Linked DNA regions of Homo sapiens. The protein of the gene in region 5 purifies or fractionates together with the protein of the main gene of each other region. This does not show direct contact. Each region holds a gene or a part of one and is shown on either strand. Other genes may lie near its edges.

Region 1 (6,143 bases), on a different chromosome or scaffold from region 5:
TTATCTTTTGTGAGCTTTAGTTTTTTTTTTTAAGATACATTTAATCTTTGAATAGATAATACATTCAACTGGTTATTAAATGTAAACTTTTTTAATATATAAATTTAGGGCTGGGTGCGGTGGCTCATGCCTGTAATCCCAGCACTTTGGGAGGCTGAGGCAGGTGGATCACTTGAGGTCAGGAGTTCGAGACCAGCCTGGCCAAGATGGTGAAACCCCCTTCTCTACTAAAAATATGAAACATTAGCTGGGTGAGGTGGCCTGCGCCTGCTATCTCAGCTACTTGGGAGGCTGAGGCAGGAGAATCACTTCTACCCAGGAAGTGGAGGTTGCAGTGAGCCGAGATCATGCCACTGTACTGCAGTTTAGGCGACAGAGTGAGACTCCGTCTCAAAAAAAAAAAAATAAAATAAAAAATAAATTTATATAACAGTGAAAAGTCGGCTGGGCGCGGTGGCTCATGCCTGTAATCCCAGCACTTTGGGAGGCCGAGGCGGGCGGATCACGAGGTCCGGAGATCTAGACCATCCTGACTAACACGGTGAAACCCCGTCTCTACTAAAAATACAAAAAATTAGCAGGGCGTGGTGGCACATGTATGTCGTCCCAGCTACTCAGGAGGCGGAGGCAGGAGAAGGGCGTGAACCCGGGAGGTGGAGCTTCAGTGAGCCGAGATCGCGCCACTGCACTCCAGCGTGGGCGACAGAGCGAGACTCCATCTCAAAAAAAAACAAAAAACAAAAAACAAAACAGTGAAAAATCTTACTTCCATCTCTGTTCTTTATTAACCTGGTTCCATGCCCTCTCCCAAACACTTTGAATAGTCTCTTTATATTCTTTTAGACTTTATTTTTTATTTTTAATTTAATTTGATTTAATTAATTAATTTATTTATTTTGAGACGGAGTCTCGCTCTGTTGCCCAGGCTGGAGTGCAGTGGCGCGATCTCGGCTCACTGCAAGCTCCGCCTCCCGGGTTCACGCCATTCTCCTGCCTCGGCCTCCCGAGTAGCTGGGACTACAGGCGCCCGCCACCAGGCCCGGCTAATTTTTTGTATTTTTAGTAGAGACAGGGTTTCACTATGTTAGCCAGGATGGTCTCGATCTCCTGACCTTGTGATCTACCCGCCTCGGCCTCCCAAAGTGCTGGGATTACAGACTTGGGCCACCGCGCCCGGCCCTTTATTTTTTATTTTTGAGACAAGAGTCTCACTCTGTCGCCCAGGCTGGTGTGCAGTGGCGCAGTCTCGGCTTTCTGCAACTTCCGCCTTCCGGGTTGAAGCGATTCTCCAGCCTCAGCCTCCTGAGTAGCTGAGTAGCCGTGCACCACCACGCCCGGCTAATTTTTTAATTTTTAGTAGACACGTGGTTTCACCGTGTTGGCCAGGCTAGACTTGAACTCCTGACCTCAAGTGATCTGCCCGCCTCAGCCTCCCAAAGTGCTGGGATTACAGGCATGAGCCACCGCGTTCGGCCTCTTTTAGACTTTCTTTAGGCGAATGCTTACAAATAAGAATATATGGCTGGGCGTGGTGGCTCACGCCTGTAACTCCAGCACTTTGGGCGGCAGAGGCCGGTGGATCACCTGAGGTCAGGAGTTTGAGACCAGCCTGGCCAACATGGTGAAACCCCGTCTCTACTAAAAATACAAAAATTAGCCAGGCATGGTGGCAGGTGCCTGTAATCTCAGTTACTCGGGAGGCCGAGGTAGGAGAATCACTTGAACCAGGAAGGCGCAGGTTGCAGTGAGCCGAGATCGCGCCGCTGTACTCCAGCTTAGGCGACAAGAGGGAGACTCCATCTCAAAAAAAAAAAAAAAAAAAAAGAAGAATTAAAAATGAAATGATACAGTTGGCCCTTGAACAAAACAGGGGTTGGGAAGCCAACCCCTGTGCGGTAGAAAATCCAAGTATAATTTTTTTTTTTTTTAAGACAGAATCTCTTGCTGTTGCGCAGGTTGGAGTGCAGTAGCAGGATCATGGCTCGATGTAGACTCAACTTTGTAGACTCAAGTGATCCTCCCTTTTTAGCCTCCTGAATGAGTAGCTGGGACCACAGGTGCATGCCACCATGCCTGGCTAATTTTTTTTTTTTTGTAGAGACAGGGCCTCCCTATGTTGCCTAGGCTGGTCTCAAACTCCTGGGCATCAACACTCCTCCCATTTCAGCCTCCGGAAGTGCTGGAATTACTGGCATGAGCCACTGTGCCTTGGCCCCAAATATAATTTTTGACCCCCCCTCCGCCGCCCCCTCGCGGCAAAACTTAACTACTGCTGTTGGTGATGGTGTTGCATAACCTGGCTTCATTAATTTCCTTTTTTTTTTTTTCTTTTTTCTGAGACGGAGTTTCGTTCTTGTTGCCCAGGCTGTAGTGCAATGGCACAGCTCACTGCAACCTCTGCCTGCCGGGTTCAAGCAGTTCTCCCTCTTCAGCCTCCCGAGTAGCTGGGTTTACAGGTGTGCGCCACCATGCCCAACTAATTTTTTTGTATTTTTAGTAGAGACAGGGTTTCACCATGTTGGCCAGGCTGGTCTTGAACTCTTGACCTCAGGCCATCCGCCTGCCTCGGCCTCCCAAAGTGCTGGGATTACAGGTGTGAGCCACCACGCCCGGCTCCTCTTTTTTGTTGTTGTTGTTTTTTTTTTTTTGAGACGAAGTCTCTCTCTATTGTCCAGGCTGGAGTGCAGTGGTGTGATCTCAGCTCATTGCAAGCTCCACCTCCTGGGTTCACGCCATTCTCCTGCCTCAGCCTCCTGAGTAGCTGGGATTACAGGTACCCGCTACCATGCCCGGCTAATTTTTTTTGTATTTTTAGTAGAGATGGGGTTTCGCCGTGTTAGCCAGGATGGTCTTGATCTCCTGACCTTGTGATCTGCCCGCCTCAGCCTCCCAAAGTGCTGAGATTACAGGCGTCAGCTACTGCGCCCGGACATTTTTTTTTTTTTTTTGAATTGGAGTTTTGTTCTTGTCACCCAGACTGGAGTGCAATGGCGCCATCTCAGCTCACTGCAACCTCCACCTCCTGGGTTCAAGCAATTCTCCTGCCTCAGCCTCCCGAGTAGCTGGGATTACAGGGGCCTGCCACCACGCCCAGCTAATTTTTGTATATTTAGTAGAGACAGGGTTTCACCATGTTAGCCAGGCTGGTTTCAAATTCCTGACCTCAGGTGATCCACCCCCCTTGGCCTCCCAGGGTGCCTGGATTACAGGTGTGAGCAACCACGCCTGGCCCCAGGTATAATTTTTGACTTCCCGCAAAACTTAACTGCTGTTGCTGTTGGCATTGCATAGCCTGGCTTCATGAATTTACTTTTTTTTTTTTTTTTTTAATGGCTGACCACTACTGCTGCAGATCTCAATCTGTGGTACATATCAAGCAATTCAAATTTTTATTTATTTATTTTTTTGAGACAGGGGCAGTTGCCCAGGCTGGAGTGCAGTGGTCTGATCATAGCTCACTATGGCCTCGACCTCCCAGGCTCAAGCCATCCTCCCATCTCAGTCTCCTGAGTAGCTGGGACTACAGGTGTGTGCCACCACTCCAGGATAAGTTTTTATTTTTTTGTAGAGGCATGGTCTCACTATGTTACCGTGGCTGGTCTCAAACTCCTGGGCTCAAGCAATCCTCCTGCCTTCAGCCTCCCAAAGTCCTGAGATCACAAGTGTGAGCCACCATGCCTGGCCAACTTTTTCGTATAATGTCATGACCTTTCTGTTTCTTGAGAGCACTTCCAGCATTAGTGGCACTTGGTATGGATCTCATGGTGTTATTCAGGGTTTACAGTATTGCACTAAGCATGATGAAAAATATGCACGAACCTTGAGAGATCACTTTTTACTGTGACACTTTTTACTGGAGGAAGGAACTGCTCACGTGGAGACGATTAGCATCACACAGCATTTTAGGGGCTACTCACAACACTTGCTCACTGAAACAGCAACAGGAGGTGGCTCCAGAATTATTACAGAAGTACAGTATATACTATAGTCAATTTTATGCAGTTGTGATTTAATACTGCACCTTTCCATTTGTTTACTGTTGACTATGAATGGCACCATGTATGGTTTGTATTTGTGTGCATAAGTTTTTATACATTTTAACTTTTTATAATAGATTTGTATATATCTTATAGTAAATAATAAAATAGACTAGTATCTACATATATTTTCTGCATTCATGGCATACCTAACTTTTTCTTAATTTTTTTGATGTTTCTAGGCTAGGTGTTTTGTTTCTGAGTTTTTTTCAAAATGTTATACATCTCCAAAAATTTAAAAAATATATTTGTTGAAAAAAATCTGTATGTAATACAGCTTTGCCTGTAGTTTCAGCTACTCCAGAGGCTGATGTGGGAGGATTACTCGAGGCCTGGAGTTTGAGGCCATAGTGTGCTATGATCACACTTGTGAATAACTACAGCACATGAGTGGACCTGTACAGTTCAAACCCGTGTTGTTCAAGGGTCAATTGTATAGTCCTGTTTTTCCCACTTTTCATGTACAGTTGCCCATGGTTCCCCACTGTTCTGCACTTCCCACCCCCAATCTTGCTTATTTTTTTTTTGAGACGGAGTGTTGCTCTGTCGCCCAGGCTGGAGTGCAGTGGCGCAATCTTGGCTCACTGCAAACTCCGCCTCCTGGGTTCACGCCATTCTCCTGCCTCAGCCTCCCGAGTAGCTGGGACTACAGGCGCCTGCTACCACGCCTGGCTAATTTTTTGTATTTTTAGTGGAGATGGGGTTTCACCGTATTAGCCAGGATGGTCTCGATCTCCTGACCTCGTGATCCGCCCACCTCGGCCTCCCAAAGTGCTGGGATTACAGGCGTGAGCCACCAGGCCCGGCCGCTTATTTACTTTATATATCTTAGAGACCTTTCCAGATCAGTACATAGAGAGCTTCCTCATTCTTTTTTTTTGGTTATATATATTATTATTTTTTTGAGACAGAATCTCACTTCATCACCCAGGCTGGAGTGCAGTGGTGCGATCTCAGCTCACTGCAACCTCCATTTCCCGGGTTCAAGTGATTCTCCTGCCTCAGCCTCCTGAGTAGCTGGGATTACAGGTGTGCACCACCACACCTGGCTAATTTTTGTATTTTTAGTAAAGACGGGGTTTAACCATGTTGGTCAGGCTAGTCTCGAACTCCTGACCTCAGGTGATCCACCCACCTTGGCCTCCCAAAGTGCTGGGATTACAAGTGTGAGCCACTGTGGCCTATATATATATTATTTATTTATTCATTTATTATTATTATTATTTTCTTTTTAATCACCTGCATAGTATTCCATTGAATGGATGTATCATAATTTATTTAACTAATTCCTTATAATGGACATTTATGTTTCCAGTGTTTTGATATTATAAACAATGCTGTAAAAAGGGCCTTTGAATGTGTCATTTTATATGTGTGCAAGGATATTTGTGGGATAAATTCACAGAAGTGAGATTTCTTTTTTTTTTTTTTTTGGAGACTGAGTTTTGCTCTGTTGCCCACACTGGAGTGCAGTGGCGCAATCTTGGCTCACTGCAACCTCCACCTCCTAGGTTCAAGCAATTCTTCTGCCTCAGCCTCCTGAGTAGCTGGGACTACAGGTGTGTGCCACCACGCCCAGCTAATTTTTATATTTTAATAGAGATGGGGTTTCACCCTATTGGCCAGGCTGATCTCGAACTCCTGACCTTGTGATCCGCCCACCTCGGCCTCCCAAAGTGCTGGGATTACAGGTGTGAGCCACCATGCCCGGCCCTCAGTCTTTTCTTTTATAGCTTTTGGATATTGAGTAAAAAAGATAGAAGAGCCTGACTGGGCGTGGTGGCTCACGCCTATAATCCCAGCACTTTTTGGGAGGCTGAGGCGGGTGGATCACCTGAGGTCAGGAGTTCGAGACCAGCTGACCAACATGGTGAAATCACGTCTCTACTAAAAATACAAAAATTAGCCGGGTGTGGTGGCATGCGCCTGTAGTTCCAGCTACTCGGGAGGCTGAGACAGGAGAATGGCTTGAACCAGGGAGATGGAGGTTGCAGTGAGCCGAGATCTATCTTGCCACTGCACTCTGGCCTGGGCAACAGAGTGAGACTCCATCTCAAAAAAAAAAAAAAAAAAAAAAAGAAGGGCCTTCTGCATTTCAGTCCTTTA
Region 2 (6,143 bases), on a different chromosome or scaffold from region 5:
CTTGATTACCAATAATTAATCTCAGATGAAATATTCAGTGCTACAGGCTTCCTCTGTCTTTGACTTAGAGAACATGCTGAGAATAGTTTGTTTGCTTGCTTGCCAAAGATCTTATCTTGACCTGGAAGAGCTGATAGGATCATAAAACCAGCATTGATCTTTCCTCAGTATTCTTTCTCTACAAAGTGAGGGGGTATGACATCTTAGCCCAGGACAAATGTGAGGTTTAATATACATCAGGAGGAGAAGAGGGGAAGAGGTTGATTGTCATTCAATAACGGCTATATTTCATAGTCATAAAATTTAAAGAACTCTGTAGTGTGTTCTAATCCCCATGCTTTCTTTGCTCTTTCTCAATGTATTTGGATAAATCACTACAGAGCAACAAAGCCAAAATGTCCAAACCACCCACTTTCCTATTCCCAGCACATGAATTAGAGGGAGCCAGCTGAGATCTGGGCCAACCACTTAGATGACTTGCATGTCTGATTTTTGTTCCATGATATGAAACTCAGAATAAATCAAAAAGAAAAATTTTTTCAGATAGCAGCTAATTCACACAAAAAAATCTTCAGCCTTTTAGTCCTTGCATATATGCAATGCTGATAAACAAACCTACTCTGCACACAGATAACAAGGATTTAGAAGTTAATTCCTACCGGCACAAACAAATACTCATGTATAGCAGTCTTACTGAACTTCCGTGTTCAGTTTTAGGCTGTAAAACTTGAGTGAAATCTGAAGAACTTTTTAAGGTCCAAAAGGAATTGAGAAAGACTTGGAAAACAGGACCTTTGAAGAAAGCTTACAGGAGACAGAATTCGAGCTTAGAAAACAATGCATGTGATCGAAAAGAAATGTGAATAGCAAAGATAGAATAAGAGGAAATTAATATAAATGGTAGAGGAGGCTAGTTTTGAGGCTAAGGGTAAACTTTCTGACTGAAACTTGTTAAACCCAAAAATGAACAGCCAGGCCAGGCACGGTGGCTCACGCCTATAATCCCAGCACTTTGGGAGGCTGAGGCGGGCAGATCACTTGAGGTCAGGGGTTCAAGACCAGCCTGGCCAACATGGTGAAACCCTGTCTCTACTTAAAAAAAAAAAAAAAATAGTAGCTGGGTGTCGTGGCGGGTGCCTGTAATCCCAGCTTCTTGAGAGGCTGAAGCAGGAGAATTGCTTGAACCTGGGAGGCGGAGGTTGCAGGGAGCTGTAATTGTGCCACTGCATTCCAGCCTGGGGCAACAGAGCAGGACTCCGTCTCAAAAAAAAAAAAAAAAAAAAAAAGAACAGCCAAATGAATGTTTGTAGAGCTCAAGCTACAAAGATATGGAGGTTGTAGTAAGTTCACTTAGTGCATGAAGTAGCGTTTTTGGATACAGATGTTTACAGATAAAGATGTTTAACAGCAGTATCTCCCTAATACCACAGACCTGATATTCCAAGCAATTGGCAGAGAAATGAATCCATTCAGCACAAATTTGGCCCCTCTACATGGCCACAGCACCTTAGATTTGGTTCACTTAACAGAAGAACAGTATGTTCTGTTTAGAAGCAGGACCCGATCCCAGGATAGGGTGAACTGCATAAACGGAGGCTCAATGAGAAATGATAAAAGTCTAAGAGGTTCTAGAAAAGAGAAATCTTTTTCTGGGCCTCATTACCAGTTATAGACATTTTTAGAAAAGGAGGGGGAGAATAGATGCAGAACGCGTCTAAAAATGAACAAAGATATGTTAATTTTAAGAATGGAGGTTGTTTACAGGGAGAGTAAATTGGTTTGTATAATTAGATTGATCCAAAAATTACCTTGCCTTTATAAAATACCTTTCTGTTAAGAAGATACAACGTTTTCTCTTGCCAGATAAAGGCAGAGTCTCTTCCTTTTGTAAAAGAACATCACCAAATTACAAGGAAGTTTAAGTCACACTTTGAGTTGCTGACAAACCTAGGACAAACCCCCAGGTTTTCTCCTTTTGGCTAGCCTATATACTGGTGCAGAGCCATTCTTGCATCAATGTGAAACATTTATTTTTTGCCTGGGCTTCTGTTTTAACGATTGACCTTCATCTCTCCTGTCCTGTAGCTGGGATGAAAGCAGCTCCATCAGTAGTGGACTCAGCGATGCCTCAGACAATCTCAGTTCAGAAGAATTCAATGCCAGCTCCTCACTCAACTCCCTCCCAAGTACTCCCACTGCTTCTCGCAGGAACTCAACAATAGTGGTACGTGAGTTTGCAAACACCCAAGCTGCCATCTCAAGATGAACCACAGGGCAAATGGCATTATCTGTGTATGGGGTTGCACGTACACACCCACTCCATGGGATTGGTTCTCATAGGCCTTTGGCCAGGTCATTTTAGAGTTGCCCCCACCCCCTCCCAAAAAAAGCTAAGGCTACTCACCCAAGACATTAGATGTTGTCATATTGTGTATACTTAGTGCCTACACCAATCTAGAGTGATACATGTAAGAGCTATTCCAACTGGAGAAAAAGAAACCCCGAGATATATGTCATCTGCTGTTGGAAACCCTAGGGGTATAGGTAGAAACCCTCAGTTTGACTTAATACTCTGAGATGAGCAGCGCCAGGTACTAACTAAAATCAATCCTGTCAGCTATCCAGTCTCCCATCTGCATAGAAGTATCTCACTCTGCCTTTTTCTCTTTTCTTTAGCTACGCACAGACTCAGAGAAGCGCTCACTGGCAGAAAGTGGGCTGAGCTGGTTTAGTGAATCAGAGGAGAAAGCCCCTAAAAAACTGGAGTACGACAGTGGTAGCCTGAAGATGGAACCTGGGACTTCTAAGTGGCGGAGGGAGCGGCCTGAGAGCTGTGATGATTCATCCAAGGGTGGAGAACTGAAAAAGCCCATCAGCCTGGGCCACCCTGGTTCCCTGAAGAAGGGCAAGACCCCACCTGTGGCTGTAACTTCCCCCATCACTCACACAGCCCAGAGTGCCCTCAAAGTCGCAGGTGAGCCTGGAATAAAGGAAGGTACAAGGGCAAAGACCTAGTTCTTTGGTTGCTCCTCTTCTTAGTGGTCATTAACCCATAGGATGATAGCAAACATTTGCATAGTGCTTTAACAGACATTATCTTATCTGGTCTAAGGACAGTCCCGTGAGTTAGGAAAGATGGGTGTTATTATTTCCATTTTACAAATGTGGAGGAAATAGAAACTCAAAGAGATTAAGTGGCTGGGCCAAAATCCCAGTTAATATGAGGTACAGGAGGAAGTATATTATGTTTAGAGACTAGTTTGGCCTCCTTCCAAACACTTCCAATGCTTGCTTTCTTCTTTCTCCCAAGTTAGTCACTCAAGGCACTTATTTTCATAGGATACAGCTTGACATCTCAGGAAGATCCTAAGAAAACAATAAATAAAATGGCTACAGCAAGAGAATTATAGTGCCCCCAAAGTTGGCCCCTTGGGTAACTTTTAGCCTTAATCAACATTTTCCTGTAGTCTCTAATTACTAAGAGATATTGTCATACTCTATTCCATTTGCTTCCCCACCTTTTTTTTCCCTTCCACAACTAGTTGTTAGATGGATATTCTTGATCATCTTTGTGTTTGCCTCTGCCTTTTTAATCAAAATGGACCATTCTACTCTGGGAGCAAAACAAAAAAAATTCCTAGCCTCCCCACCCCTCCCAGCCAGAGTCTTTCAGACAAGAAACTTTATCAGCTTATCTTGTACCTGTTTACCCAAATTTAGGCCTCTAAAAGTCTACAATACATGGACAATGTTCCCTTCTCCCATGGAGGGAAAGAAAAGGGTGGGTTTTTAAGATACTGGTCAGTTTCAGCTCTTTTCTCATTTCCCGTCCTCTTGCAGGCAAACCTGAGGGCAAAGCTACAGACAAGGGTAAGCTTGCAGTGAAGAATACTGGGCTCCAACGCTCCTCCTCTGATGCTGGTCGGGACCGCCTGAGTGATGCTAAGAAGCCCCCCTCGGGCATTGCTCGCCCCTCCACTTCGGGATCCTTTGGCTACAAGAAGCCTCCTCCTGCCACAGGCACAGCCACTGTCATGCAAACTGGTGGTTCAGCCACTCTCAGCAAGATCCAGAAGTCCTCAGGCATCCCTGTCAAGCCAGTAAATGGGCGCAAGACTAGCTTAGATGTTTCCAACAGTGCAGAGCCAGGATTCCTGGCTCCTGGAGCCCGTTCTAACATCCAGTACCGCAGCCTGCCCCGGCCAGCCAAGTCAAGTTCTATGAGCGTGACCGGCGGGCGGGGTGGACCTCGCCCTGTGAGCAGCAGCATTGACCCCAGTCTCCTCAGCACCAAGCAGGGAGGCCTTACGCCTTCCAGACTGAAGGAGCCTACCAAGGTAGCCAGTGGGCGGACCACTCCAGCCCCTGTCAATCAGACAGATCGGGAAAAGGAGAAGGCCAAAGCCAAGGCAGTGGCCTTGGACTCAGACAACATCTCCTTGAAGAGTATTGGCTCCCCAGAAAGTACTCCCAAGAACCAAGCAAGCCACCCCACAGCCACCAAGCTGGCAGAGCTGCCACCAACCCCTCTCAGGTACCCAATGTGGGCAGCCGCCTCCTTGTCTGTTTGCTTTGTCATTCTTTCGCATATCTCTGCCCTCCTTGGACTAGATGAGGCATGGCCTATCCACCGTTGTCTCTAGGCCTTTGCATGGCTCTTTCCCACCTCTCCCCCATATGCCAAGGTTCTGAAAGAATCTAGTTTCTGACAGTTCTGAAAGACTGAATCCCTCTTTCAAAACTTACCTCATTTGTACTATTCTCTGATCAATGCTTACCCTGTCTTCAGCACTTGTATGGGTGTTTTTACTGTTTATTTACACATATATACCTATTTGCATAAATTCACTTGTATCTCCCATGTGCATATGCTGGCCCCTTATCTAAGCTGAATGTGCCCCAAGTTGGGTATCAGATTTCCTTGCATTGTATTTCACAACAGCATTAGGATAAGCCTCTGTGCTTAGCAAATAGGCAGAAAACAAGACTGGATAGGATTTCTTTAAGGTCCTATCTGCCTCTCACTCTGTAATTCTATTATTCTAAATATTTCGTTTGATCTTCTCTCAGGGCCACAGCGAAGAGCTTTGTCAAACCACCCTCACTAGCCAATCTTGACAAGGTCAACTCCAACAGTCTGGATCTACCATCATCCAGTGATACCACCCATGCTTCAAAGGTCCCAGATCTGCATGCTACAAGCTCAGCATCTGGGGGCCCTCTCCCTTCCTGCTTCACCCCCAGTCCGGCACCCATCCTCAATATTAACTCAGCCAGCTTCTCCCAGGGCCTGGAGCTAATGAGTGGTTTCAGTGTGCCAAAAGAGACCCGCATGTACCCCAAACTCTCAGGCCTGCACAGGAGCATGGAGTCCCTCCAGATGCCAATGAGCCTCCCCAGTGCCTTCCCCAGCAGTACTCCCGTCCCCACCCCACCTGCTCCCCCTGCTGCTCCCACAGAAGAAGAGACGGAAGAGCTGACTTGGAGTGGAAGCCCCAGAGCTGGGCAACTGGACAGGTAGGTAGAAAAGACAGCAGAACCTCGGCCTGTCTCCGTGTCTTGGGCTCATTTTGCCATTGGCAATACTATCCTATATTTTATTGCCATTTTGTGACTTTTGACATTTTTTCACATATATTAAGTAATTTAATTTGCTTCACAACAACTCCATGAGATAGGTAAGATGTGTTTTTGTTTTTAAATTATTATTCTTATATTAAAAATGAAGAAACTTGTGCACAAAGAAGTTAAATGACTCATCCAAGATCTCATAATTAGGTTAACCTATCATCCAGAGCTTTTGCTTCCTAGTCCAAAATCATTTTGTTTTGTTTTGTTTGAGATGGAGTTTTGCTCTTGTTGCCCAGGCTGGAGTGCAGTGGTGCAGTCTTGGCTCACTGCAATCTCTGCCTCCCAGGTTCAAGCAGTTCTCCTGCTTCAGCCTGCTAAGTAGCTGGGATTACAGGCACTTGCCACCATGCACGGCTAATTTTTGTATTTTTAGTAGAGACCAGGTTTCACCATGTTGGCCAGGCTGGTCTTGAACTCCTGACCTCAAGTGATCTGCCTACATCAGCTTCCCAAAGTGCTGGGATTACAGGCATGAGCCACCACACCTGGCTGCCCAGAATCTTTTCTTTTAT
Region 3 (6,143 bases), on a different chromosome or scaffold from region 5:
AAAGGACTCTGAAAAGTTAGGTGAATTGGCCATGTCAGAAGCTAGTACATGATAGAAGAGGGACTAGAATACGAGCTTCTTAACAGCTTATCTCTTTTATTTGCAGATATTAGACTGGTTATATGAAAACTTACCGTTACAAAATGATATTTTCTTAACCCAAGTAAATAAAATAGAATGAACTATATATAATATATATAATGAACTATATATAATTCTTCAAGATTCTAATGCATGCTTGTTTAGAGCTTGCTGTTAACCTAAGCAATGAGATAGCAATCCCTTTCATTATTTGTTGACTCCCCTTAATAGAGTACCTAATGAACATTGCCAACTTAAGAAAAAAATGTTTTTTTTTCTGCAATGTCAGCTCTGAAATTCAGCTTTGTTGCCTCTTTATAGGACAATTGCAGGCGAGCTGAAAATGTTCTTCGTTTATGGATCATTGAAGCCAAGGACCTTGCCCCTAAAAAGAAATATTTCTGCGAACTGTGCCTTGATGATACCCTCTTTGCTCGTACAACCAGCAAGACCAAAGCAGACAATATTTTCTGGGGCGAACATTTTGAATTCTTCAGCCTTCCACCTCTTCATAGTATCACAGTTCACATTTACAAGGATGTGGAAAAAAAGAAAAAAAAGGACAAGAATAATTATGTAGGGCTAGTCAACATCCCCACTGCCAGTGTGACTGGTCGCCAATTTGTAGAAAAGTGGTATCCAGTGAGTACACCTACACCCAACAAAGGAAAGACAGGAGGACCTTCTATTCGGATTAAATCACGTTTCCAAACTATCACCATTCTGCCTATGGAGCAATACAAAGAATTTGCAGAATTTGTCACCAGCAACTACACCATGCTGTGTTCTGTCCTTGAGCCAGTAATTAGTGTGAGAAATAAAGAGGAGTTGGCTTGTGCCTTAGTGCACATTCTTCAAAGTACTGGCAGAGCCAAGGTAAGTGGAAAAGGGGGATTGCAGTACCTGAAGTCTCTTCCCTACCTTTCATAAACCAAGATATGGATATTGTAGAAATCCAAATTAGAGAAATGTGCTTTACTATTGGTCAAAACAAGAAGAATTAAGAAGAAAACCTATTAGATCCAGAAAAGATGAAGATTATAAAACTAAACAAGTAAAATGGAGAGACCAGCAAATATTTAAAGCCAATTTGCATGAAACATAGATAACACAGCCAGCTCTTTCTTGTCTGACAAAATAAATGGTAGGATTGGCACGATAACCCTACAGCATGTTCAAGGTTCCTTATCTTTAATTTAGTTCTAGAGTGTTGTATGGTGGTTTTCTTCCTCACTGTATTTTATTTAAGTTTAACTGATGACTGTATCCTCTAGGCACAGAAGGAAGTATTCCAGAAGCATATTGAGTATTAGCAAGAGTCTTTGTGGGATTAAAATCTATATTTAGAATAAAAATCCAAGGGATATGATACAATTGGTAGCTGTTTCATGATACACTTATTTCACCTTGGATAGAAGTAAAAACTCAGGAATATTTTTTATTTAAAGGAGAAATATGCTGGTTGTGGGAAGAACAAAAACTAGTTGAGAGAGTCTTTGACCTATGAAGGATATTAACTAGGAAGAGTTACCGTTATACTGTATGCAAACTGGTCATGATAAAATTACATCTCAGATCCAAAGAAACTCACAGCTAGAATAATGTATTTAGAACCAAACAAAGTACTATTACTATTTCTTGATATGTCGGAATATATCAATATATTCAATATTTAGTCTCTTATCTGGCTTCTATGGATTATAACTTTTGTGTTTAAATTTACTTATGATAATCTTGGGCATTCTGTCATTAAAAAGCTTATGAGTTTGGAGCGAGGTGTCACTGAAATTTTGAATTGTATGGATATATTTCTACTTTTCAGTTGCTCAAGGTTCAGAATATACATTAAGACTTTTTTAAATGACTTAATACTGATTTACGTACATTTTAGGTAGAATAAACACCCATTTAAAGTGGAAAAGTTCAGTAAGCTTTGACCGATTTTGCACCCATCGAAACCACCACTATGATCAAGATACAGAATGTTACCGTTACCCCCAAGAGTTTCCTCCTGTCTCTTAGCATTAAGTTTAATAGTGATTCCTAAGTCTACAACTCTGTTATACTGTTAAGCTGCCCCAGAGTAAGTCCCATTGATGTTTAAAATGCTTAATTTTAAAGTAAAAGTAAATCAGCATATTCCTCCTATTTTGGCATTTGCAGCCCTTGAAATATCCAATAATTATATAGCATTCAAAATATATGATGTTATCACATTCAAACTGAACAACCAACATTGAGCTTTACTAGAAGTTCTTTAAGACTGTTGAGGAATGAAGCAGCTGTTTCTTTGCACCTTTATTTCCCCTTATGCTATCCTTCTGGATTGATGGATGGATGGACGGATGGATGGGTGGGCGGGCAGACAGAAAGATAGCCTAGACAATGACTTCAAGTGATGAGTTCAGTAGATTCTACATTGACACTGTGGACCGATTTGTAAGTATTATATATTGAACACCTAATATATGCCAGAAACTGTTAGGTGCTGGAGATATGGTGGTAAACAAAAACAGAAACTGGTTTTCTGGGGAAAATAAATATTAATCAAGTAATTACAGAAATAAATATGATTACAGTGAGAACTACAGAGGATAAAAAGAGAGATGATACTATGAAATGGAGCAAGGGGAGCTGACTAATGGAGTTCAGGGGCAATGTTGGTCAGGGACACCTTCACTGAGGAAATGATGTGTGAACTAAAATCCAAAGGATCCCAGGAATGAGCTACCTGACAGTGGGAGTGGAAGCAAGGGTGGGAGCAGAGCAGAACTGAGAACAGTATTTGGAAAAAAAAAAAAAAAGGCTTTGTGGTGAATAGAGAACATTGTGTGTGTTAGAAAGGGCTTGGTGTATTAAAGGACCTAAAAAGAAAAGGTACAAGGCTTGAAAGGTAGACAGAAACCAGAAAATATAGGGACTTGTAGACTGCATTCAGAATTATGGCCTTTATCAAAAGTGCAATGGAAAATCTTTGAGGGAATTTTAAATGTAGGGGTAGGAACACCTAACATTTTATCCTGATTGCTTTTTTTCCTTTCAGATGAATCTGATAGCTTTAGTTTTAAAGCAGCATTTCCAGGATGTCTGATATTTCAAAAGTCTCTTCTAATGTGTATTATTTATTCAGTTGCTTTCTGCCTGATTGAACATTATTCTACCAGGATTTTCTGACTGACTTGGTGATGTCTGAGGTGGATCGTTGTGGAGAGCATGATGTCTTGATCTTCAGAGAGAACACTATTGCCACCAAATCCATTGAGGAATACCTCAAGTTGGTGGGACAACAGTATCTTCATGACGCACTGGGTATGAAAGAGAAAAACATCTATTTTCTTTTATTTACTTTTCAGTTTTAAGCTATTTCACCCCCATGAGACGAATTGAGCTCAAATTCTGCATGTTATTTAGTTCTAGCTGACTCAGGTGTTAAGGTTTGAATCATGGCTGTAAGAAGTCTGCAGTACTCACCAGTAGAGAAATAATAATAAATGTAGAAACAGAAACCTTGTCAGCATACACTGCTACCCCAGGTCCCCAGCTTCATGATTCCAGGATGCACAGTAATATCAGCAGTGTCCACTGATAGATCTGAGGTGGTCTGTTTTGCCCAAAGTTTTGGGTGTTTATATGATGATATTATTACCTAGTCTTGAGAGTGTTACCCTGACATTTGTTATCATGCATGCAAAACTCTAATCAAAAGTGAAGAAACTCTTGCCACTTCCCACAACTCCCCCACAAATTTCTGCCTTTCTCTAGAATTTTTAACATAACTAATTTTTGTCCAATCAGTAGTTCTTGCTGACTAGGCTACGCACTTGCAGTTCCAGATTTGGTCATGAAATTGAGGCATTAACCGCTAGAGTAAGGTACTGTGCTGGTCACTTTAATATACATCATGATAGAGCAGATGTGAGTTCCTTGAAGGAAATAGCCCTTTGTTTTACCTCCATATCCCCACTACCTGCACACACTGTTGAGCAGCACTGTCCGATAGAAATATGACCCATGTGTGAATACTTTTATTTATTTTTATTTTTTGAGTAATTGTAAATTTTCTAGTAGTCACAGTATTAAAAAGGATGAAGAGAAACAGGTGAAATTGATAACATATTTCATTTGACCCAGTATATCCAAATACTATTTAATGGTTTAGAAGAATAAAAGTTATTAATTAGGTGTTTTACTTTTTTATTCTTTTTGAAAATCAGTGTGTATTTCACATGTATCACACATTTTAATTTGCACAAGCCATTTCTAATGCTCAACAGCCACGTGTGACTATCAAGAATAGAAAGTAAAAACATGTTGAATGATTGGAGAGATTTTTACCCTCGAGAAGTTTGCAATGTAAGGATATAACATTAGGGATATCTCTATACCAAAAAGAGACATTCTGTGTTCTTTCAAATAATTTTAAAAAAATTGAATCCAGCTGATAGAATTGTCAAACTTTCTGTGTGAAATACATTTATGTTTTGTATGTAGTTTGATGAATAGAAAGGTTAAAAACAGACATTGAGCAAGAGCAGATAAGATAAGAAGTAGCATGGGGGAAAGGACCCATAAACAAAAAGACATAGAGGTGGGACAGAACCAGGAATGTGTGGAATAAAACTATTTAGCTGGAAAAAGACATGAAAGAAACATGTGAACAACAACAACAAAAAGATTAAACAATAATTAGAACTAATTTGTGAAAACCTCAAATGCCTGGGTGAAGATTTAAAGTTTACAGTAATAACTGGAGAGCCACTGAAAGTTTTGAGCAGGTGTTTTCAGTGGAATTAACTTAGCAGACTGATTAAGACGAGTTGTATCCAGGCATGGTGGCTCACATCTATAGTTCCAGCTACTCAGGAGGCCAAGGTAAGAGAACTGCTTGAGCCCAGGAGTTCGAGGCAGCAGTGAGCTATGGTCACATCACTGCACTCCAGCCTGGGTGACAGAGAAAGACCTTGTCTTAAAAAAAATAAATAAATAAATAAAGGTGAAGAAAGCCTACTGAAAGCCAATCAATTAAGAAGCCATTGTAGGCTGGGCGCGGTGGCTCACACTTGTAATCCCAACACTTTAGGAGGCCGAGGCAGGCCCACCACCCAAGGTCAGGAGTTCGAGACCAGCCTGGCCAACATGCTGAAACCCCATCTCTACTAAAAATACAAAAATTAGCCAGGCATGGTGGCGGGCACCTGTAATCCCAGCTAAGGAGGCTGAGGCAGGAGAATTGCTTGAACCAGAGAGGTGGAAGTTGCGGTAAGCCAAGATTATACCATTGCACTCCAGCCTGGGAGACAAGAGCAAAACTCCTTCTCTTAAAAAAAAAAAAAAAAAAAAAAAAAAAAGCCATTGTAATAAGAAAGAATGAGACTCTGAATGACTGTAATCATGCAAGTAAGAATAGAGAGGAAGACGGATATGAGAAATATTAAGGTTGAACTGATAGAACTTGGCAAATTTTTCAGTTTGTGGGAAGCAAGGAGGGAACGAATATTACAGAGAATTGTGGGGTGTTGTGAGTGACTAGGGGGATGATGAGATTCTTAACAGGAATAGAAACCACAGAAGTAGTAGGTGTGAAACAGTGGAAATTACATATATATTCAATTTGAAGTTCTAGTAGGAAATCTCAGGGGTTTTAGATAGGCAATCTAAGATACCTGTCTAGCTGGCTGTTGGAAATTTGAGACTAATTTATGCTTGTGGAGAGGTTAAATGAAGCTGTAAGATTACCAGAGCAGGAAGAGAACAGGGCCAAGGATAGATCTTAGAGTGCACCTGGGTTTATGGTATAGAATGAAGAAGAGGAATCAGAGAAGTGATCAGAGAAAGAGAGAGCATCCAAAAAAGAAAGAAAACCAGGAAAATACTGAGTCCTAGATACCAATAGAGAAGAGAGCATCAGTAGAGTCAGAAATTATGGAAGGTAAAGAAAAAGAATGGATATTGCATTTGGCACCTTAAATATCACTAGTGATGGCTCACACTGGTTTCAGGAGGAAAGGAGGCAGGCTGTAAGGAATAGAGTGAGTCGCCATTCAAGAAACAGGATCACTGTG
Region 4 (6,143 bases), on a different chromosome or scaffold from region 5:
TAGTGAAGTAACTGAAACACCAGAAGCCCTCTCAATATACGCGAAGTCTTACAGAAAGCAGCCCAACTCCAACAGCTCCAGCTTCCCGCTACCTTGTGGCTGACACGTAACTTACTCCCTTCAACATCAGCTTCAATTCTAGAGATGTTTACTGGGAAAGAGGACTGGTTCTAGGATGAGCTATGAATTAAGAGTCAGGTTTAGGCCTTCTTCGCTTCACCTCACCTCCTTCTCACTTGTACATTGCACCTGCGCCCCTCGCTGACTTCCTGTCCCCCAGCACCTTCTTTTTATAAGAACTGTTCCTGCAGGGATTCTCAGCCACCAGCAGGTCTGGCTCACTAGCGGGTGTTTGGAAATGGAGGAGGCGATTTTGCATTATCATGAGTGGGGGAGGCTCTGCTCTACTTCCAAAATTTGAAAAGGAACATAATACTTACCATCTAAAGACCTGCAGTTCTCAAAATCAGCTATTAGGTTGGTGCAAAAGTAATTGTGATTTTTGCCATTAAAAGTAATGGCAAAAACTGCAATGACTTTTGTATCAACGTAATACTAGGATGAAGCTGGGACTTACCATGCACACCAGTTTGTTCTCCTGGGTCTCCTTCTCAAAGGAGACCTCTGCCACCTCATCGCCTCCTGCGATCCTCTCCCCAACATCACCACTGAGTCGCATCACCTCCACGTGCAGCCGACCTGCCACCTGCAGCAATGAGGGAAGGCAGAAACATTTCTCCAGATTTGGTTCGTGCTCCCTTGAGATGACCTCTCTTCTCTTTTACAGTCAAGTTGTCAGGTTAATGGTGTATGGGAATTTAGAGGCCTAGTCTCTGACAGTTACTCTACCCTAAGAGTCCTTGGAAACACAAGGTATTAATAAGACACGTTACTGACAAAAAATAGCAACAATATCCCATCACCACCCTCTTGTTTCTTAAACTATTCTCTACAGGAAACAAGGCATGAAGAGAAAACCAACCTCTCCTTTCTGGTTGATGATGGGAACAGCGTATTGTAACTTCACATCATAGAAAAGTGACTCGAGGAAGACATTGGCCACCCCAATGAGACTGTGATTTTCCTGCTCATCATAGAATGGATCAGCACGTTTGAAGTATGATCGTATTACCTGTAAAGAGATTGAGAACACACAACTTCAGAAAAACCATTTACAATAAATGCATTCAACCTACTGCTTTTTGATGCACTCTAGGTTATTAAACTTAACTTTCATCATCCTAACTCTTGTATTTTTTAGAGTAAAACATTCTAAAGTTTTTGCTAAAGCACAGCGCTGTATTACTCCCATACACACTCTTCCTCATTCCCATTCACAATGGAGGTGAGCATCCTCCACCCATGACAGAGCGATCCCAGTAACAGGTCATTACTTTTATCAGCTATTCTCCTTTACATGGAAATTTTGCCACAAAATAAACAATATATGTTGACCAGAAAAAGAAGTAGAGTGTGCTAAACTACACTTCACCTTTCTTTTGGGAAAGACAGTAATTCTTATCTGCTCTGCTTATTCCTAGCAAGTCATCAGATAAAACTGCTGCTAATAAAAGGTGAGCCCTCACACCTATAATCCCAGCACTTTGGGAGGCCAAGGCAGGCGGGTCACCTGAGGTCAAGAGTTTGAGACCAGCCTGCCCAACATGGTGAAATCCCGTCTCTAATAAAAATACAAAAATTAGCCAGGTGTGGTGGTGGGCGCCTGTAATCCCAGCTACTCGGGAGGCTGAGGCAGGAAAATCACTTGAACCCAGGAGGCAGAGGAGGCAGTGAGCCAAGATCGTGCCACTGCACTCCAGCCTGGATGACAGAGCAAGACTCCATCTAAAAAAAAAAAAAGGTGAGCCCCTATGGGAGTGGCTCTTTCATTATTTATTACTGTTGTTTTATTTCTAAGTTGAAATAGGAGAGGGGTACCAAAGAGACAAACATGTTTTAAGCAAAAACATCACCTAACTATAAGAAACATTTTTATTGATAACAATCTGGAAAAATCATTTTTACAAAACAAAAGGCAAAGGAAGTAAACAACTCTATGCGGAAACAGGTCTAACGGTAATGAAAATATGTTCAGACATACATAATATGCACTTCTATTTTAAATACGTATGAGTACATGGCTGATCTAAGTAAGAAAACCTGCAAGTTAAGGACAGAGTACCAATGTATAGATTTATGGCATTTATGTTATGATCAAAACTTCTTCAAAAATGCTCCTTGGAGTGTAAATATTAAGATACCACCGATGTTCAACTTACAAAACATATATTGTAGGTTTATTATCTGCAAGGTTAAACGGGTTGAGCAATGGGAGGAGAGACAAATAATGAGGCCTGGCCTCTGTCCTAAAGAGGTTCCCAGAGAGCACAGGAGACAGACACCCGCACACCAACAGAAGTCAGAATGGAAAGTGGAGAATTCTGCTAGAAATCTAAAAGACAGAAATGAGAAGAAAAAAGAAGATACCAGAAAGAGAGATTATTAAAATTGTTAATTTGCTAAACAATTTAGGGGATTAAAATAAACCTTACTCCAGAAATAGGATTATAATTTTGGAAAAAGAACAATTTTCCCCTGAAATGGGTAGACTCATTCCAGCTTGGCTCCTTCCATAATTACCAATTAAGTGATTTTCTCTTAAATAACTTACTGGGTTATCTTCTTCACACTCTTTCCACTCCTGATAAAGGTCTCTCATATCCAACAGCCTGTTGTCCAGTTTTTCCAAAGACCAAATCTGCTTTCCTTTTCCTTTTCTTCTCACCTGGATTGCAGGCTCACTAAGAAGAGAGCCTCGCTGCAAAGAGAGTAAGAATGACCGTGAGAAACACACAGGCAGCGGGGAAGTCAAAGCTGACAATTCCACCCCCATCAGTCAAATGTCATTACACCAAAACTCAAATGGCAATCATCCTTTAATCTGTTGATTACAAAGCCTCCAAAAAGTCTTACAAGCTATAACATAATACCTTCCTACCCAAGTGCAATCAAAACCTATTTATAAACTTCACTTTAAGTATAAACTTACATTAAAAATTTTTTGGGGGGAGTTGCTGGGCATGGTGGTTCACGCCTGTAATCCCAGCACTTTGGGAGGCCAAGGCAGGTGGATAACTTGAGGTCAGGAGTTCAAGACCAGCCTGGCCAACATGGTGAAACCCCTCTCTACTAAAAATACAAAAATTAGCCGGGTGTGGTGGCACGTGCCTGTAATGCCAGCTACTTGGGAGGCTGAAGCACAAGAATTGCTTGAACCCAGGAGGCAGAGGTTGCAGTGAGCTGAAGTCTTGCCACTGCACTCCAGCCTAGGTGACAGTATGAGACTCTCAAAAATAAATAAATATATACATGTGTGTGTGTGTAAAGAGACAGCATCTCACTCTGTCACCCAGGCTGGAGTGCAGTGGCACGTCATAGCTCACTGCAGCCTCGAACTCCTGGGCTCCAGTGATACTCCTGCCTCAGCCTCCCAAGTAGTTAGGACCACAGGTGCATGCCAATACACCCAGCTAATTTTGTCTGTTTTGCATAGAGACAGGGTCTTGCTATATGGCCAAGGCTGGTTTGGAACTCCTGGCCTCAAGTGATCCCCCTGCTTCAGCCTCCCAAAGCACAGGGATTATAGGCATGAGCCACCACATTTAAATTTTGACTGTAGTTGGAAATGATTTTAAGTTTAAAACCCAAAAGACCACATTTAACAGCAAGTTGAAATAAAAGTATTTTATTCAGGCCACCATATGACCACAACGTTATCAATGGGGAGAGAGGGAAAGTTTGCTGCGGTGTATGGGGAAGAAACGTCCCTCTCAGAGGCTGAATTTTGTTTTATTGTAATGGATGGCATCTTCAGGGGGTATAAAACATGAAACACTTAAAAGAGTAAACTGAAAAGTCCCCGATTCACCCACGTGGAAGCAATTAATGATACCAGTTTCCAAATATGCATTGTTTGGGTTTCTTATTAAGATCATACAGAACTAGATGGAAGCGGTGCTCACACCACATTATTACCGTGCCAAATGCCACTGAGTTATTCACTTTAAAATAGTAATGTTTGGCCAGGTGTGGTGGCTCACGCCTGTAATCCCAGCACTTTGGGAGGCCAAGGCAGGCAGATCACAAGGTCAGGAGTTTGAGACCAGCCTGGCCAATATGGTGAAACCCCGTCTCTACTAAAAATACAAAAATTAGCCAGGCATGGTGGTGGGCGCCTGTAGTCCCAGCTATTCAGGAGGCTGAGGCAGAAGAATCGCTTGAACCCAAGAGGAGGTTGCAGTGAGCCGAGATCGCGCCACTGCACTCCAGCCTGGGCAACAAAGCAAGACTCTGTCTCAAAAAAAATAATAATAATAAAATTAAAAAAAAGTAATGTTCTATTATGCAAGTATCACACCTCCCCCCCAAAAAAAGTATGCTCTGAAGTTTTTCCAGCTTATAAGAGCAATGTGGATTTTTTTCAGAGTAGAACTTGAGCAATGTGTTTTTAATGTAGAAAAAATTTTAGAACTTTTAAAAAACCACAAAGTTAAAAAAAAAAAAGCCCCTATACATTTCCCCGAGGGAGACATATCTACTGGTTATCTAATCAATTTAGGTTTACTGGCTTAATTTTTCAAATGTTCTACTTAAAACTGAAGAGAACTTTGAAATACATTGATGTTTCATTAACATCTTGCCTACAATCATTTTCTAAGAAAAAAATTTAAATAATAAAACAAACATTTGAGAATTCTTACGGTCAAAATGCGTGTGTGTGTTTTTTTTTAATTGAGACAGAGTCTCTTTCTGTCGCCCAGGCTGGGGTGCAGTGGCCCAATCTCGGCTCACTGCAACCTCCGCCTGGGTTCAAGTGATTCTCCTGCCTCAGCCCCCCAAGCAGCTGGGATTACAGGCGCCTGCCACCACGCCTGGCTGATTTTTGTATTTTTAATAGAGATGGGGTTTCATCATATTGGCCAGGCTGGTCTCGAACTCCTGACCTCAGGTGATCCGCCCACCTTGTCCTCCCAAAGTGCTGGGATTACAGGCATGAGCCACCATGCCCGGCCATCTTACAGTCAAAATTAAAGGCCCTCCTACCTTATATTCAGCCAGCCAGTGAATAAATACAAAAATCCCATTTGTGACCTGTGTGGGTAGTGGCTTTCCTGGGGGAGAATGCTGGACCTGGGACTATAATAGCAACGGGCAATATGGTGCAGCTACCATAACTTAGCCCTCTTGCAAAACTGGAAATAAGAAAAAAATTCACCAGAGAAGAGTTCACAGAATGGACAGGACTTTAAACAACTTTTCAAATACCAAAAAATAGTCTGTTGCACGAAAGACTACAGAGTCAGCCTAACTAAGGAGAGATGCCAGGCGACATGAGTTCTTCCAGGCGTTGACATGGCTGCCCCAGTGCAGAGCCACACCTTTCAACAAAGCCCAAAAGAGGTTACGGAGAAAAGGGCTGCGGTCATGCTTACTGGGGAAAAATCTTTCAGGTTTCTGCTTTTTTCAACTTATACACTATAAAATCAAAGAGGATCTTGTACTTCTCAGCCTTCAAGGAGAAACTAGGCCCTGAACCTTCTCCTTGTGACTGGCCTTCCTCTTCGGTTTTTGGTGAGTCCTACTGTACCCAGACTTTGCCCTACAAATACTAGTGTTCTAATTAAGTAAAAATTTTCAAAATACACACAGAGTATACAAAAACAATGATCTGTAAAGTAACGATCATATCATATTTACAATACCTTTCTCAAAATACTAAGAATCATATTTGCCAAATATCTAACCCTGTACAAAACGCTGACCTTGATGCTATGATGTCATAGGGAAAGATGTAATCCTTGCTATCAAATTAGAATAATATCCGCCTGTAATCCCAGCACTTTGGGAGGCCAAAGCAGGTGGATCACTTGAGGTCAGGAGTTTGAGACCAGCCTGGCCAACACAGCAAAACCCCATCTCTACTAAAAATACAAAAATTAGTCCAGCGTGGTGGCACACACCTGTAATCCCAGATACTGAGGAGGCTGAGGCAGGAGAATCGCTTGAACCCAGGAGGCAGATGCTGCAGTGACCCAGGATCACACCACTGCATTCCAGCCTGGGTGACAGAGTAAGACTCCCTC
Region 5 (5,449 bases):
AGTACCAGGGCAGTGAATATTTAGTATTTCTTATAGTACACATCTGCTGATAGTGAATTATCTCAGCTTTTGTCTGAAAACATCTTTATTTAAAATTCATTTGTGAGAAATATTTTTGCTGAGGATAGAATTCTATATTGGCAGTGATTTTATTTTTCTCTTTAAAAATGTCATTCCATTGTTTTTCTGATACCCATAGTGAGTTGTCAGTCTTGTGGTTGCTCCTTTGAAAGAAATTTGTCTTTCATTCTCTGGCAAGGTTTTCAGATTTATTTTTATTTTTATTTTTTTTTGAGACAGAGTCTCACTCTGTCACCTGGGCTGGAGTGCAGTGGCACAATCTCGGCTCACTACAACCTCCGCCTCCCAGATTCAAGCGATTCTCCTGCCTCAGCCTCCCGCCACCACACCCAGCTAATTTTTGTATTTTTAGTAGAGGCGGAGTTTCTCCATGTTGGCCAGGCTGGTCTGGAACTCCTGACCTCAGGTGATCCACCTGCCTCAGCCTCCCAAAGTGCTGGGATGACAGGCATGAGCCACCGCACCCGGCCGGTTTTCAGATTTTTTCTTTGACTTTGGTTTTCATCAGTTTCACTGTGATGTGCCCAGTGTAGTTTTCTTTGCCTATGTGGGGTTTATTGAGCTTTTTGAAATTGTGAGTTAATGCTTTTTGTTAGTTTTGTAAAATTCTATGCTATTATCTCTTCAAATATTGCTTCTGCCTTATTCAGTCTTTCCTCTGGCTTGTGTGACTGTATGCTATACATCTGCTGTGTTCTTTTAGGGATTTCTTAAAATTCCTTTTCTCACACTGTATTTCGGTAGGATGTTTTTCTAATGATCTTTTAGTTAACTATTTCTTTTCTTTTTTTTTTTTTTTTGTCTTGGAGGTTTTCTCTTGTTGCCCAGGTTGGGGTGCAATGGCACGATCTTGGCTCACTGCAACCTCTGCCTCCCAGGTTCAAGTGATTGATTCTCTTGCCTCAGCCTCCTAAGTAGCTGGGATTATAGGCATGCACCACCATGCCAGGCTAATTTTTGTATTTTTAGTAGAGATGGGGTTTCACCATGTTAGTCAGGCTGGTCTTGAACTCCTGACCTCAGGTGATCCACTCGCCTTGGCCTCCCAAAGTGGGATTACAGGCATGAGCCACTGCACCCAGTCTAGTTCATTATTTCTTCTGCTATATCTAGATTGCTGTTAAGACCATCTAATGACTTTTTAATTTCAGATATCATATATTTTTAGTTTTAAATGTCTATTTGTTTCTTTTTATAGATTGTAGTTTTCCACTGAACGATCTTTTTATCTGTTTTGTCTTTTCCTCTTATTTTCTTAAATATATTACTCATAGTAATTTTTTAAATTCCTGTTTGATGATGCCAATATCCAAATCACTTTGGGAATGATTCTTTGCCTTTTATTTTCCTTAGTTTTTAGTTATTCTTGCCTGTTTTTTTTTTTTTTAACATAACATGTGGACATGGACAAAAAATTATAGAGGCTCTGCATGACATTATCATTCTCCAAAGACAGTTTTCTTCTGGTAGACAGAGTACTGGCAGATCACTTTGATCTTAAGGCTTGGTTTTGGGTGTTGTTAAAGCTGCTTGTTTTGGCTTTGAATTTATTCCTAGGGCATGGCCCTTACCTCTAGATTGTAGCCCTTCTGGGTTGTTACCTAATGTTCCTCATTGACCTTTTGGGAGTTTGAACTCTAATCTCTCTCTCAGCACTGTGTGTCTGATAAAAATTTCAGCGCAGTTCTTGAATTTCTGAATTCCGGTTTTTTGCTGGTCCCTTGGAATCTCTTCCATACACACACAACTTAGAAGATGGCCAGTGATTTAAGGATAATTTGTAGGCAAATTTTAGAGGTACTTTTTGGTCTCTAATTCACTCTTCTCTAGAGTTTTTGCCTCTCGTGTCCCACCCATTTTGGTAGCCCTGAATTAACTTTTCTCTCTTCAGCTTAGTCAAATAGCCATTTTCTGGTTGGGCTCAACTCCTCCATGCTGTCATTTGAAAAATGGTCTTAGTAAAAGAGCCAAGGCTTGTAATCCCTCAGGTTCTTCCTGCTTGTGTTGATTATCCTCCAGTGCCTTCGAACAGTTGTTTTATAAATGTTGTGTAGCTTTTCAATATAGTTGTTTTCGGCTGGGTGTGGTAGCTCACGCCTGTAATCCCAGCACTTTAGGAGGCCGAGGCAGGGGGATAACCTGAGGTCGGGAGATTGAGACCAGCCTGACCAACATGGAGAAATCCCATCTCTACTGAAAATACAAAGTTAGCTGGGCGTGGTGGCGCATGCCTGTAATCCCAGCTACTCTGGAGGCTGAGAGAGAAGAATTGCTCAAACCTGGGAGGCGGAGGTTGCGGTGAGCTGAGATCGTGCCATTGCACTCTAGCCTGGGCAACAAGAGCGAAACTCCGTCTCAAAAAAAAAAAAAACATGTATGTGTGTGTGTGTGTGTATATATATATACACACATATATATATACACACACATATATATATACACACACATATATACACACATATATATGTGTATATATATACACACATATATATATGTATATATATATGGAGAGAGAGAGAGAGAGCTGTTTTCTATGGGAAGATTAGTCTAATACAAGCTGTTCTGTCATGGCAGGACCCAAAAGTCCTACATCTAGATTTTTATTTTTATAAGCATTATTTGAACTGTAAATAATTGATTTTTTTAATCTTTTTTTCTTCAGATTTTTGTACCTCTTAAGAGCTGTATAACTCAGACCAAATATGCAGTGTATTTTTCAGAACTGATCCCTATATGTCTAGCAAAGTAAAAATTTTTGGCCATATATTCTAGTATAACAAATATTACAAACTTGTTACTTATGTTTGAACCAAAAGCATGCATAATAAAATGAGAAATTTTTTTAGCTTATCTAGTAAAAATATAACTAATGTTATGTAAAGTATGTAAGTTCCTGAAAGTGTTATTTCCTGATCTCTTATTTTGTGTGAAATATATGCTCTAACATTATGGATGTTTGCAGGTCTCGACACAGGCGATTTTCTTATAGCCAGTCTAAATCTCGTTCCAAATCATTACCAAGGCGGTCTACCTCAGCAAGGCAGTCAAGAACTCCAAGAAGGAATTTTGGCTCTAGAGGACGGTCAAGGTCCAAGTCCTTACAAAAGAGGTCCAAGTCAATAGGAAAATCACAGTCAAGTTCACCTCAAAAGCAGACTAGCTCAGGAACAAAATCAAGATCACATGGAAGACATTCTGACTCAATAGCAAGATCCCCGTGTAAATCTCCCAAAGGGTATACCAATTCTGAAACTAAAGTACAAACAGCAAAGCATTCTCATTTTCGGTCACATTCCAGATCTCGAAGTTATCGTCATAAAAACAGTTGGTGAACAGCAACAGAAAGAGCACCACGCCGTCTTTAATATAAGTTATTAAACTCTCATTATGTTAAATAAAAATTCTTTAAGGCATACAGAAAATGCGAGTTGATATTAGTTACTTTGGGCATATGGAAGAAATAAAATCTCTAGCTTTGGATTAATAAAAATTTGGTCTCCATTTAAAGGGCCCACACTACAAATTATGATTTGTCTAATGTCACCATTTTATGGACCATTTTTTATTTACATTGTGGCAGAAGGGTACTTTTCAAGGGAAATGAGTAAACTGGAACTAATTTTTAAAATTCTACTTGCATAGTATTAGTACTATTAATAATACCTTTTACACAAATATTTTTGACTTTAAAGCACTTTCATGTAAAAAGTAACTATGACTGTATAATTGCATAGAGCAGACTTAAGCTGTTTGACACCTATGTCTCTTTTGTGTCTTCTGTTTAAACTTGGGCCAATTCCTGGTGGATATTAGTTCATATTACAAAATTCTGATGTTCCAAAAAGTAGAATATATATAGAGATCAAACATTCAAAAGATACATTCTCTCCTAAGCTCAAAGGTTATATTTTTATTGGGTAGAACAGTATAGGTAAGTTGACATGAAATTGCATCCTGCACCATGACCACATTAGTAATATCAGAACTTTTGAGAAATACTGGATTTTGAATGGTTTGAGACTAATTCTTTAAAAATTAGGCTGAGCAACACTCACAATCCAAAAATATTCATATTAAGACTTACACATTTGAAGAATGGTACATTTTGTATAAAATCATATTTGATACCATTATTTCCACATACCTACTTTTCATCTGTTGCTTAATTTTTTCTTTTTAGAGTTCTTGCTCAACTTTATATGGAACAAGTCTTATTATTTTTGAAAGAGTGTTTAGTACCTTGTATTAAGAAACTTGGCCAAGCGTGGTGGTTCACTCCTGTAATCCCAGCACTTTGGGAGGTCGAGGCGGGCAGATTGCTTGAGGCCAGGAGATTGAGACCAGCCTGGGCAACATGGTGAAATCCTGTCTCTAAAATTTAAAAAAAAGAAGAAGAAGAAACTCGAGACTACATCTTCAAAAAACAACTTTGCAGTATTTGAATTTTACATTATACTGCCCTTCATTTCTGACAGCCAAATAACTTTATTGATATTTATTGCTTTTGTAGTTGTTATAACTAATAATTTCTTTGAAAATGTGTTGTAGTTTATGTTTTTCAAAGGGTTTTGGTAGTGTTTGTGATAGAATGGTTTTGCATATGATTATTATAGGGGATATATTTATAGAGCTCTACTTGTATACTTTGTGACTTACATTATGAAAACTTCAAAGTTCTCAATCCATACAGTTAGTATTTGTATCCAGAGTGTTTAAGAAAAAAATCTGTCTTATATTTTTAGTATATAGGAGCCAGTGTTGCTTCTATTTGTTTTGAATACAAATTCCAGTTTTCTTTGCATATTAGATCCCATATGTAAGAAACAACCTTAAACAATAATTTGTATGCTGGTAATATTTGGACAAGTGCCATAAATTAATGTATATTGTACTTTCTGAATAGATTTTCTCTAATCATAGCAAAATTTATTTCAAAACTACAACTCTTTGAATTATTCCGCTATAATAAAATTTAGTTATAAAATTATGTGGCACTACTGAAAATCTAAAGGATAATCTGAAGAATGAGTAAGACAGATATTGATAGAAATTTTTAGTATTTTCAGAATGTTTGGGTTCATACACATAAGTGAAATCATTTTAAAAACTAGGGGCTGGGCACAGTGGCTCACACCAGTAATCCTAGCACTTTGGGAGGCCAAGGCAGGAGGATTGCTTGAGCCCAGGAGTTTGAGACCAGCCTGGGCAACATAGCAAGACCCCTTTATCTATAAAAATAATAATAACTAGGTACCATTGTGAAAAATAATAACTAGGGATTGATTATAGTATCTTTACTCTGTATTCACAAATCTCTGTATTCCTGAACATATTTAATCCTTTGATTTACCTCTGACTAGGTTTGTCA

Evidence for each region.
Region 1: the proteins of SRSF12 (region 5) and TESK2 purify together in Homo sapiens (affinity purification with mass spectrometry, with the first as the bait; one large-scale study listed by BioGRID). This does not show direct contact.
Region 2: the proteins of SRSF12 (region 5) and NAV1 purify together in Homo sapiens (affinity purification with mass spectrometry, with the first as the bait; one large-scale study listed by BioGRID). This does not show direct contact.
Region 3: the proteins of SRSF12 (region 5) and RASAL2 purify together in Homo sapiens (affinity purification with mass spectrometry, with the first as the bait; one large-scale study listed by BioGRID). This does not show direct contact.
Region 4: the proteins of SRSF12 (region 5) and KIF13B purify together in Homo sapiens (affinity purification with mass spectrometry, with the first as the bait; one large-scale study listed by BioGRID). This does not show direct contact.

The regions. Positions count from the first base shown.
Region 1 is NC_000001.11:45,479,786-45,485,928, reverse strand, and holds part of TESK2 (dual specificity testis-specific protein kinase 2), read left to right. Parts: intron 1-6,143. UniProt on the Homo sapiens protein: Dual specificity protein kinase activity catalyzing autophosphorylation and phosphorylation of exogenous substrates on both serine/threonine and tyrosine residues. Phosphorylates cofilin at 'Ser-3'. May play an important role in spermatogenesis.
Region 2 is NC_000001.11:201,778,336-201,784,478, forward strand, and holds part of NAV1 (neuron navigator 1), read left to right. Parts: intron 1-2,085; coding exon 2,086-2,224; intron 2,225-2,676; coding exon 2,677-2,974; intron 2,975-3,840; coding exon 3,841-4,534; intron 4,535-5,070; coding exon 5,071-5,517; intron 5,518-6,143. UniProt on the Homo sapiens protein: May be involved in neuronal migration.
Region 3 is NC_000001.11:178,442,273-178,448,415, forward strand, and holds part of RASAL2 (ras GTPase-activating protein nGAP), read left to right. Parts: intron 1-402; coding exon 403-957; intron 958-3,245; coding exon 3,246-3,390; intron 3,391-6,143. UniProt on the Homo sapiens protein: Inhibitory regulator of the Ras-cyclic AMP pathway.
Region 4 is NC_000008.11:29,139,486-29,145,628, forward strand, and holds part of KIF13B (kinesin-like protein KIF13B), read right to left. Parts: intron 2,819-6,143; coding exon 2,672-2,818; intron 1,133-2,671; coding exon 983-1,132; intron 707-982; coding exon 578-706; intron 1-577. UniProt on the Homo sapiens protein: Involved in reorganization of the cortical cytoskeleton. Regulates axon formation by promoting the formation of extra axons. May be functionally important for the intracellular trafficking of MAGUKs and associated protein complexes.
Region 5 is NC_000006.12:89,096,542-89,101,990, reverse strand, and holds part of SRSF12 (serine/arginine-rich splicing factor 12), read left to right. Parts: intron 1-3,043; coding exon 3,044-3,413; 3' UTR 3,414-5,449. UniProt on the Homo sapiens protein: Splicing factor that seems to antagonize SR proteins in pre-mRNA splicing regulation.